Regions from separate parts of the Homo sapiens genome. Here region 2 is linked to region 1. Evidence: fine-mapped expression QTL. A gene starts in region 1. The other region holds a variant in brackets. All regions are shown on one strand. Distances are between the middles of the regions. Region 1 holds the start of RHOA (ras homolog family member A). Region 2 has its middle 12 kb from the start of LAMB2.

Evidence for each region. PIP is the estimated chance that this variant, and not a neighbour inherited with it, causes the effect.
Region 2: its variant is the best candidate, but not a certain one, in a credible set for the expression of RHOA in whole blood (INTERVAL, PIP 0.54).

What each region holds. Positions count from the first base shown.
Region 1 is chr3:49,409,818-49,415,188 of GRCh38, reverse strand. RHOA (ras homolog family member A) reads left to right here and starts at 3,213. Exons shown (of 5, transcript NM_001664.4): 1 at 3,213-3,369. TCTA (T cell leukemia translocation altered) reads right to left here and starts at 2,766. Exons shown (of 3, transcript NM_022171.3): 1 at 2,549-2,766; 2 at 2,079-2,133; 3 at 1-369. The coding sequence starts at 2,762. The coding sequence ends at 327. RefSeq lists enhancers at 2,554-2,963, 2,899-3,193, 3,092-4,066 and silencers at 3,034-3,333, 3,394-3,673, 3,684-3,773.
Region 2 is chr3:49,142,147-49,147,517 of GRCh38, reverse strand. No RefSeq gene overlaps it. Among named protein-coding and RNA genes, the nearest start is that of LAMB2, 12 kb to the right of the region's middle. The variant G/A (reference allele first, on the strand shown) is at 2,600.

The DNA.
Region 1 (5,371 bases):
GGACAGGAAAAGAAACCTAAGACAAAAGAACTGATGGTCTTCCCAACCCAGAGGCTTCCTGAGTTATCACCCCTGAGAGAGGAAGAACACAATCTCTCTCCTTAAGGCACCCAGATAAGAGTACAGGCAAACTCTTCACTTGCCCAGTGCCTGGGTGAGGGAGCAGGCTTAAGAGGCAGAAGAGGCCCAGCCCTGTAGGCACTGGGTACTCCCTGCTACCAACCCTGAACCCCCGGCAGTTGTCCCTGAGGTCTGGGGAGTAGCAGAACCCAGTGTAGAAGCCAGCAGACCCAGTGATGCCCTTGGAGACCCTCTGCTGCCTTCCCTTATTCTCTGTGGGTTTTGAGAGGTTCGTTTGCTGCCATTTCCCTGAAAGTGATGGAGAGAGAGAAGAGAGAGTGGTTATTCCATGGGCAGAACAGTTGCTGAAATTGGCTCTCCCAAGCTCCTTCTTGGGGGCTGAGCTAGGCTCAGTAAGGTCACATAACAATCTAGACCTCTCTGCTGGTCTCCCACAGCCCACCCTGGGCCCAGCACCTTCTCCCTGCAGACTCATTCTTCTTCCTGGTTCTCCATGTTAGTACGGCATTGCCATCCTTCTCTAGTTTTTTTATTCTTTTTATTTATTACTATTGTTATTACTTTTCTTTTTTTGAGACGGAGTTTCACTCTTGTTGCCCAGGTTGGGGTGCAATGGCAAGATCTCAGCTCACTGCAGCCTCCACCTCCCGGGTTCAAGCAATTTTCCTGCCTCAGCCTCCCAAGTAGCTGGGATTACAGGCGCCCGCCACCACACCCAGCTAGTTTTTGTATTTTTAGTGAAGACGGGGTTTCGCCATGTTGGCCAGGCTGGTCTCAAACTCCTGGCCTCAGGTGATCTACCCTCCTCAGTCTCCCAAAGTGCTAGGAACAGGCGTGAGCCACCATGCCCGGCCTGTTATTTTTTTTGAGACAGAGTCTCACTCTGATGCCCAGTCTGGAGTGCAGTGGCGTGATCTGGGCTCACTGCAACCTCTGCCTCCTGGGTTCAAGTGATTCTCATGCCTCAGCCTCCCGAGTAGCTGGGATTACAGGCGTATGCCACCATGCCCAGCTAATTTTTTCTATTTTTAGTAAAGACGGGGTTTCCCTATGTTGGCCAGGCTAGTCTCAAACTCCTGACCTCAAGTGATCCGCCCATCTCAGCCTCCCAAAGTGCTGGGATTACAGGCATGAGCCATGGGGCCTGGCCTCTTCTCTAAGACAGAAACCTGGGCAGTGGCAGCCTTTCTAACCTCTAGCCCTAACTCTTGGACCCCTTTATCTACTTGCCATGAAGTAGGCATTTATAAAGGCAAATTAGATCAGACCACAGCCTTGCTGAGTTAGTCTTTCAATGGCTCCCAGGGTCCAACAAGCTCTCACGTTCAAGCTCCAGCATCACAGTCTTACCTATTCTAATATGTCACCCGTATTCTTCCCTCTTAGCCTTGCTCAATCCATTCCCTTTGCTTGGTACACTTTGTCACCCTGTGGCATTTGATCTCGGCTTAGGTGTCTTTCTTGGGAGAAGCCTTCCCTGACCACCCTTGCCCCATGCACTGCCGCCCTCCCCTAATAAATCCCTGGCTCCCCATGAGCAGGGCCCGGGTTGTCTTTGTTCTCTGGGCCTCGTGTGGCCCCTATCACGTGATAGGGGCCCAGAGATTATCTGAATGAATGCCCTGATTAGTGAGCGCATGTTTTGCAGAAGAGGAGGCTGACCCTGATGAGGTCAATGTGCTCAGGACAGAGATTACTGCCTTCCCAACTGAGGGGATTGTGCAGAGTGGAATCCAACAAACCTGTCATTTCATCTCTCTGAAATTATGACAATACCACCACCTATCCTACAGGCTGCTGAACAGCATGATGATGGACTGTCCAGACCTTGGTGTCACCCTAACTTGAAGCCTGAGCTCTACGTGCAGACTTGAAGCTTGCTGCAAAGGCCATTAAGCTGGTGGGCTTAAAGCCTGAGAACTCCCCTCTCTGTCACCAGCACAGGAGTGTCCTTGGAATGCCAAGCATGGGGTTGCGGTATGGACAGATTTACTCACCACGAAGGGAAATGCGTGGAGCCATCAGGCGTGGATCCATTCTGACCACCCAGACCTGGAGGCAGAAACACATCCAGAGCTGCAGAAGGCTGGGGTGGGAATCTGAGCAGGCATCAGCCCAGGTCAGGTTAGAGACCACTGGTATTGTTTGGTGAAGTCTGGTGAGGGTCCTAAGGGACTAATGGTATTGCCAGGTGAGAGTTCTGAGGAACAGATACAATGTGATGGGTGGACTGGTGGGGATTCTGGCGTAAAATGGTATGGTGGCATGAGTCAGGGCACAACGTTAAGTTCTCCCATCCAAGTACCTGGCTTAGCTTCCGAGGTCAGATGCGTTCAGGGTAGTAAGGCCGTGAACCAATGTTAAGTTCTGATGAGCCTCTTGCAGGATAGTGGGGAACCCAATGGTACAGTCGGGAGAGGGTGGGGGCGGGGGCGGCCAGCCCACGGAGGTTCGTAGGAAGCCTCACCTGGACGGTGATACAACCCGGTCACTGTATTCCCGTAGAACCCCCACGCCAGCTGGATGCCCAGGAGACTTAACACCAACCACAGCAGCAGCAGCTTGAAGAGGGTCACGCGCATGTCCTGCGCCTCCCACTCCCGCAAGAACTCGCTGCCCAGCGCGCCCAGCACCGTGGCCGGCAGAGCCTGCAAGGCCTGCCCAGACCAGGACTCCGCCATGACTGGCCCTCGCCCCACCCGGGGTACTGTCACCGTAGTCCCCACCACGCACGCGTGTGGTCTTCCGGGACCAGGCCCGTTAGTGCGCACGCGTAAACCCAGCCAGGGTGGGGCCTACTTCGCGTGCGTGAAGAGTTGGCAGTTCGGGGAGGAGTATTAAAACCGCGCACGCGCACCTAACCCCACCCTGCTTGCTTAAGGGATGAGTGACTCCGGGAGTACAAAATAGCAACCAGGTCTTTTATAGCCCCGGAGTTCCCGTGATGCCCCACGCGGCTGCAATGATTGGTTAAGGGTTTTGCTTTTAGGGCGTGGACGGGCTCCTGAGCAATAGTGGATGAGCTGTGAGTGCGCGCGCGTGCGCGGGGCCGCGACCTGTGCCGGCTCGAGCCCGCTGGGCACTCGGAGGCGCGCACGTCGTTCCCCGCCCTCCCGCCGCCGCCCGCCCTCGCTCTCTCGCGCTACCCTCCCGCCGCCCGCGGTCCTCCGTCGGTTCTCTCGTTAGTCCACGGTCTGGTCTTCAGCTACCCGCCTTCGTCTCCGAGTTTGCGACTCGCGGACCGGCGTCCCCGGCGCGAAGAGGCTGGACTCGGATTCGTTGCCTGAGGTGAGCGGAAGGGTTCCCTCCAGGCGCCGCGGGGCCCCAGGCCCGCCAGCCCGGTACTCTTCCGGCCGGCAGGCCGCCGCACCGCCGCGGCCGCGCCCCACCGGCTGCTCGTGGCCGAGCCGCCCCTGGCCCCTGACCCTTGACCTGACTCCCAGCCCGGGCCCCGCGCCCCAAGCGGCGACCCCGCCCGCGCAGTCCCCGGAAGCGCGCCCGGTAGTCTCCTGTGCCCCTTCCCCCGCCCGGCCGGGCCTGGTGGAGCCCAGGCTGCCCGCCTGCCCGCCCTCGGTCCCCGGAGCTTCCTCTCCCAGCGGCGCCGGGCAGGGCGGGGGCTTTGGGCCGGGCCCCGCGACCGCGCAGTGTAGCCGGCCGCTGAAAGCGCGCGTGGCTGTCGGAGTTGAAATGGGAAAGAAACTCTTTACAACTCCATTTTGCTTTTTACGTTTAACGAGAAACGACAATCACTGTTTCATATTGATTAAAGTCCAGTTACACTTTGGGTAGGTTTTCTTTTAATGCAGACTTGTTGGAGACTGTGTAAGTAAGTAAAAGATTGTATTGAACGCTTAGGGGTATGATCTACGGCCATACCACCTGGAACGCGCCCGAACTCGTCTGAAAGCTTTGGGGTCTGTTTTGAGTGGAAAAGGGGTATTTTCCATTTGGAAAAAAAAAACAACACACAAAACTGTAAATGATTTAAGCGATGTTGCATGAAAATAGATGCAATGTTGCTTAGTCGAAGTCGCTGTATTGATTAGGAATGATCTAAATATCTGTACCTTAGTTACTGATTGGATCTACAGTTACGGGTCGTCTTCATTGAATAGCGCTATTCGCATCCAAGTTGATTTGTTCACAAACCTTGTTTAGTAGTTTACGGTGGAAAATTGGAATCCTTTTTACCTCAAAGTTGGTTCCACTTGTGTTTTTTAATAGTTCTGATTTTAAATTTTTACCTCTGTTGTTGACTTGTTTGGTTCTGTCTTGAAGAAAGTCTTAAACGTTTCTTGCAGGTGTGTAAGTAGATATTTCACTCTGCCTTTCTGAAGGAGAAAAATTGAAAAACCAAAAAACTTCCATAATTTAAAATGTTGTATGTGGAGAGAATTTTTCAACCACTTAGTATCACCCAGATGTGTAATGTGTACCATGCGGATGATTGTCACCTTAGATGTGGCTAGATTGGCGGAGATACTGTTTTGAGCATTTGGCACAAGTGACATTGGACTGAAAAACTAGTTTTTAATTGTAAAGAATGACTTATTGAAGGATCTCTGGATAACTTGTCTTAATTGGTTCCATCTACTTTTGTGGAGCACTGATGGCTCTTGGGGACATTAAATATATAAGGTGCACCTTGGTTTGAGTTAAAGTCTAGTGCTAGATTTATCCTCTCTGTTCTCATAAAAATCTGTGTTGGAGGGAAGAAGAGAGTAGGAATACTGTGTAGTTCTTGAGTTTTAGATCTAAGAGGAATCTTTCAGGACTGGTTGTCCAACCCCATTTGCAGATGAGCAAACTGAGTCCCAGAGACTTAAGTAAATTTCCCAAGGTTACCTATCTAGTCAGGAGCAGACCAGAACTGTCTGCTCTGTTAAGGTATTCTCCATTTACTCCCAAGCAGTTGGCCTCCAGAGTCAGCTAAAATTCAGGACTTCTAGCTTATTCCATTGTTTCTTCTTTTAAACCTTGTTGATGGTGAATAGTTTGGGAGAAACTGTTCATTTGCCAAAAAATTTCGGTTCATTAGCTTACACAGCACTCTCCCCTTGTTAACTGGATGGTCCTGCCTTCAATTGAGGGAGATAGATGAATGTACGAGGGTCCCTGGTTGGCCTAATCATGGCTTTGTTTGGATTTTTTTTTAAGGGACCAACTTCTAGAGCAAGGCCTACACTTTACTGCTTCAAAACCAAGATATTTAGGTCAGGCTAAGATATTTTTAGTTAACTGTGGGCACTTTTGACTGTTGATTTGGGGTACTGCGTGTATCAAGTAAACA
Region 2 (5,371 bases), 270 kb after region 1:
GATCCGCCCAACTCGGCCTCCCAAAATGCTGGGATTACAGGCTTGAGCCACCGCACCTGGCTACCCGGCTAATTTTTGTATTTTTAGTAGAGTTGGGGTTTCACCATATTGGCCAGGCTGGTCACGAACTCCTGACCTCAGGTGATCTGACCACCTTGGCCTCCCAAAGTGCTGGGATTATAGGTGTGAGCCACTGCGCCTGGCTCAGAGACATAAATTTTATTTTATTTATTTTAATTTTTTTGAGATGGAGTCTCACTCTGTTGCCCAGGCTGGAGTGCAGTGGCGCAATCTTGGCTCACTGCAAGCTCCGCTTCCTGGGTTCATGCCATTCTCCTGCCTCAGCCTCCTGAGTAGTAGCTGGGACTACAGGCGCCCGCCACCATGCTTGGCTAATTTTTTTGTATTTTTAGTAGAGACGGGGTTTGACTGTGTTAGCCAGGATGATCTCCATCTCCTGATCTCATGGTCCGCCCACCTCGGCCTCCAAAAGTGCTGGGATTACAGGCATGAGCCACTGTGCCTGGCCAATTTTATTTTTTTATTTTATTTTATTTTATTATTATTATTATTTTTTGAGATGGAGTCTTGCTCTGTCACCCAGGCTGGAGTGCAGTGGCGCTATCTTGGCTCACTGCAAGCTCCGCCTCCCACGTTCACACCATTCTCCTTCCTCAGCCTCCCAAGTAGCTGGGACTACAGGTGCCTGCCACTGCGCCCAGCTAATTTTTTGTTTTTGTATTTTTAGTAGAGATGGGGTTTCACCGTGTTAGCCAGGATGGTCTCGATCTCCTGACCTCATGATCCACCCGCCTCGGCTTCCCAAAGTGCTGGGATTACAGGCGTGAGCCACCACGCCTGGCCTATTTTATTTTATTTTATTTTATTTTATTTTATTTTATTTTATTTTATTTTTTGAGATGGAGTTTTGCTCTTGTCACCCAGGTTGGAGTACAGTGGCACAATGTTGACTCACTGCAACCTCTGCCTCCCAGGTTCAAGCGATTCTCTTGCCTCAGCCTCCTCAGTAGCTGGGATCACAGGTGCTGGCCACCTTGTCTGGCTAGTTTTGTTTTATTTTATTTTATTTTATTTTTGTGTTTTTAGTAGAGAGAGGGTCTCACCACATTGGCCAGGCTGGTCTTGAACTCCTGACCTCAGGTGATCTGCACGCCTCGGCCTCCCAAAGTCCTGGGATTACAGGCATGAGCCACCTGCACCCGGCCTCTTTGTTTGTTTATTTACTTATTTATTTTGAGACAGAGTTTCGCTCTTGTTGCCCAGGCTGTAGTGCAATGGCACGATCTCGGCTCACTGCAACCTCTGCCTCCTGGGTTCAAGCGATTCTTCTGCTGCAGCCTTTGGAGTAGCCGGGATTATAGGCGCCTGCCACCATGCCCAGCTAATTTTTTTTTGTATTTTTAGTAGAGACGGGATTTCACCATGTTGGCCAGACTGGTGTTGAATTCCTGACCTCAGGTGATCCACCTGCCTCGCCCTCCCAAAGTGCTGAGATTACAGGCGTGAACCACTGCGCCCAGTCTCTGAGACATAAATTATAGCAAGACAGGATTGGTGCAGTGAGGCTGGGAGGCAGGGGATCATAGAGGCCTGGAGTTGCAGCAAGAGGATTAAGACCTACATAGATGGAGAGTGTAGGCAGAGGAGCCCAGGCAGGGGAAACAGCTCATGCAAAAGACAGAAGATAAGAATAGGCAAGTGCCAGATCTCATAGGACCTTTTGGGCCAGGAGAGGGGCTTAACCTTTATCCCAGGGGAAGTGGGGAACCATGGAAGAGATTTAAGCAGGGAAGAGATGTGGGGAGAATTTATTGTTTGGTGGAAGGCCCAGATGCAAGCTCCCGAAATGATTCTGAGTGAGAGATGGCATTCTCTCTACTAGATTGGGGCCACTGGAGATGGAGGAAAAATTGACTCAAAACAGATTAGGGGTTCAAGGGGCCGGGCATGGTGGCTCACGCCTGTAATCCCAGCACTTTGGGAGGCCGAGGTGGGATCACCTGAGGTCAAAAGTTTGAGAGAAGCCTGGTGAACATGGTGAAACCCCGTCTGTACTAAAAATACAAAAATTAGCTGGGCGTGGTGGCGGGTGTCTGTAATCCCAGCACTTTGGGAGGCCGAGTTGGGCGGATCACAAGGTCAGGAGATTGAGGCCATCCTGGCTAACATGGCGAAACCCCACCTCTACCAAAAAAAAAAAAAAAAAATTAGCCAGGTATGGTAGCATGCACCTGTAGTCCCAGATACTTGGGAGGCTGAGGCAGGAGAATTGCTTGAACCTGGGAGGTAGAGGTTACAGTGAGCCAAGATCACAGCATTACACTCCAGCCTGGACAACTAGAGCAAAACTCTGTCTCAAAAAAAAAAAAAAAAAAAAGAGAGAGATTAGGAAACAGAAGGGGGGCTGAGGGGTGGGGGTAGGGATGTCCCCCTTGGATGAGGGCCAATCCAAGAAAGGTGGCAAGTAAGTGTTAATGAGTGGGGCTGATTGCCTCTTGCTGGCTTCCCTTGACCCTCTTGCTAGCTTGTGCACCTGCCATGGGTGAACACGTTGCCTGGGCTGGGGTCTTTGTACCCT[G/A]GGGCCTCAGGCATTTACAGGAGTTCCACCAGGCAGGCTCATGGAGGCAGCAAGGCCAGGCCTCTCCAGCACGATGCCTGAAGCCTGTGCCTGCCTGTTCTGCAGCATCTCAGCTCTGCTCCATGGGGATGGGCCTCAGTGAGTGTATGTGCCAGGCTTGAAGTGGCTTCAGGGTAGGGGTTGCAGGAGCACCATGAGGTTCATCTAATCTTTCCCTTCCTCTGCCAGCATGTGTGCCATCTGCAAGGTTCACTGAGCACTGAGTGGGGCCTGCTATGTGGGCAGTATCCCTGCCATCTTCATATCATTGGTCATACTTGTGACCACTGTGTGCCTGGAAAGCAGGCTTTGGGCCTCTGGCTGCAGTGATGAGCCTTCAGGGCCTGTAGGCATGAGGTTGGGGGCCAGCTGTCTCCTGTCCTTGCATGGCTTGATTGCTTTGTCATTCTCCACAGAGTGCCACTGATATGCTGAAGGTACCACCAGTGCCATCTATAACCCTGTGTATGGGCAGTGCATGTTCCAGGAAGGACTTGCTGGTTGCTGCCGTGACTACTGCCTCCCTGGCTACTGAAGCTTTTGGCAGTGCCAGCCCTGTGCCTGCAATGGGCATGCTGAGTTGTGCCACCCCCTTATATGTATCTGCCAGGCCTGCCAGGCTGGCACTGTAAAAGGTGAGCACTGTCATTGGATGGGTTGAACAGGCCCCATACCATGTGCTACTGCCCCCAGGTGCTTGGATGGCTACTATGGAGACCCCACTCTAGGCTTGGGCCAGCGGTGCTGGCTCTGCCTTTGTCCTGGGCACCCCAATTCCAGCCTCTATCATGGGAGTTCCTGCCATGTGGACAGCATGAGTGGGCATATCCTAGTCTTCTGTTTACCTGGCTATGCAGGTGAGGCATGGTTGGCAGTGACAAAGCCACAGCCCTGGTCAATTGTTCACAATCCCATCAGGTCCACATGACAAATCTTCCCAATGCCACCTGTATGCTGAGCTGGGCACCATCTTCAAGGAGTTCCTGTTCTGAGGAAGGAGGGCTGAATGGGGGGAATTATAGGTATAGACCTTGAAAGCCAGGAAGATGGGCTATAATATACCTATTGTGTCCCTCCTGGCCAGACCTCAGACTTTCTGGCTGCATATCTGAGACCCACAGGCCCCCAGGGTACAGGAAGACACATATACCCCAGTCCTCTCCAGGCCTCAGCTGTGACCACTGCTTCTGTGGCTATTTTGGGCACCTGGCCAGGAGGATACCCCAGAAGAGTCCATACCGGTCTGCCAGTGTGGCAATATCAATCTCCATGATCCTGCTGCCTGTGACCCCCACAGTGGGCACTGCCAGCATTCTGTGCACCACAGCCATGTCCCTGCCTATGCCCACGGCAAGCCTGGCTTCCGCAGCAGTGACCTGTGTTGCGGGAAGTCAGGGACCCCAAATGGAGGGACCGGCTGAAGCCATGGCAGAAGAACGTGGATTGTGAAGATTTCATGGACATTTATTAGTTCCCCAAATTAATACTTTTATAATTTCTTATGCCTGTCTTTACTGCAATCTGTAAACATAAATTGTGAAGATTTCATGGACACTTATCACTTTCCCAATCAATACCCTTGTGATTTCCTATGCCTGTCTTTACTTTAATATCTTAATCCTGTCATCTCGTAAACTGAGGAGGATGTATGTCGCCTCAGGACCCTGTGATGATTGCATTAACTGCACAAATTGTAGAGCATGTGTGTTTGAACAATATGAAATCTGGGCACCTTGAAAAAAGAACAGGATAACAGCAATGTTCAGGGAACAAGAGAGATAACCTTAAACTCTGACCGCTGGTGAGCCAGGCGGAACAGAGCTGTATTTCTCTTCTTTCAAAAGCAAATGGGAGAAATATCGCTGAATTCTTTTTCTCAGCAAGGAACATCCCTGAGAAAGAGAATGCGCCTCTGAGAGTAGGCCTCTAAAATGGCCCCCTTGGGTGTGGCCATCTTCTGTGGTCGAAACTGTAGAGATGAAATAAGCCCCAGTCTCCCATAGCGCTCCCAGGCTTATTAGGATGAGGAAATTCCCGCCTAATAAATTTTGGTCAGACAGGTTGCTCTCAAACCCTGTCTCCTGATAAGATGTTATCAGTGACAATGGTGCCCGAAACTTCATTAGCAATTTTAATTTTGCCCCAGTCCTGTGGTCCTGTGATCTCGCCCTGCCTCCATTTGCCTTGTGATATTCTATCACCTTGTGAAGCATGTGATCTCTGTGACCCACACCCTATTCATACACTCCCTCCCCTTTTGAAAATCACTAATAAAAACTTGCTGGTTTCACGGCTCAGAGGGCATCATGGAACCTACCGACATGTGATGTCTCCCCCAGACGCCCAGTTTTAAAATTTATCTCTTTTGTACTCTGTCCCTTTATTTCTCAACCTGGCCGATGCTTAGGGAAAACAGAAAAGAACCTGTGTGACTATTGGGGGCAGGTTCCCCTATAGACCTGGGCTCAGAGGGCTGCCAGCATGAGTTTGTGGGTGGGGACATCCCAGGGTGACCGGGTAGGATTTTCACTCCCCAGATTGGCCAAGCCTTCCTCTCCCCAGGCTACAGTTGTGACCCTTGAGACAATGTCCTCATGTGGTGCCCATCTGAGGCTGAAGCCTGTGCTGCCCCCGCACTCTGGGGCAAGACTGCAGCCACTGTGCCCCCCTCTTCTGGAACCTGGGAGACCCCTGGGGCTGTGAACTCTGTGGCTTTCATGCTCAATACACTTT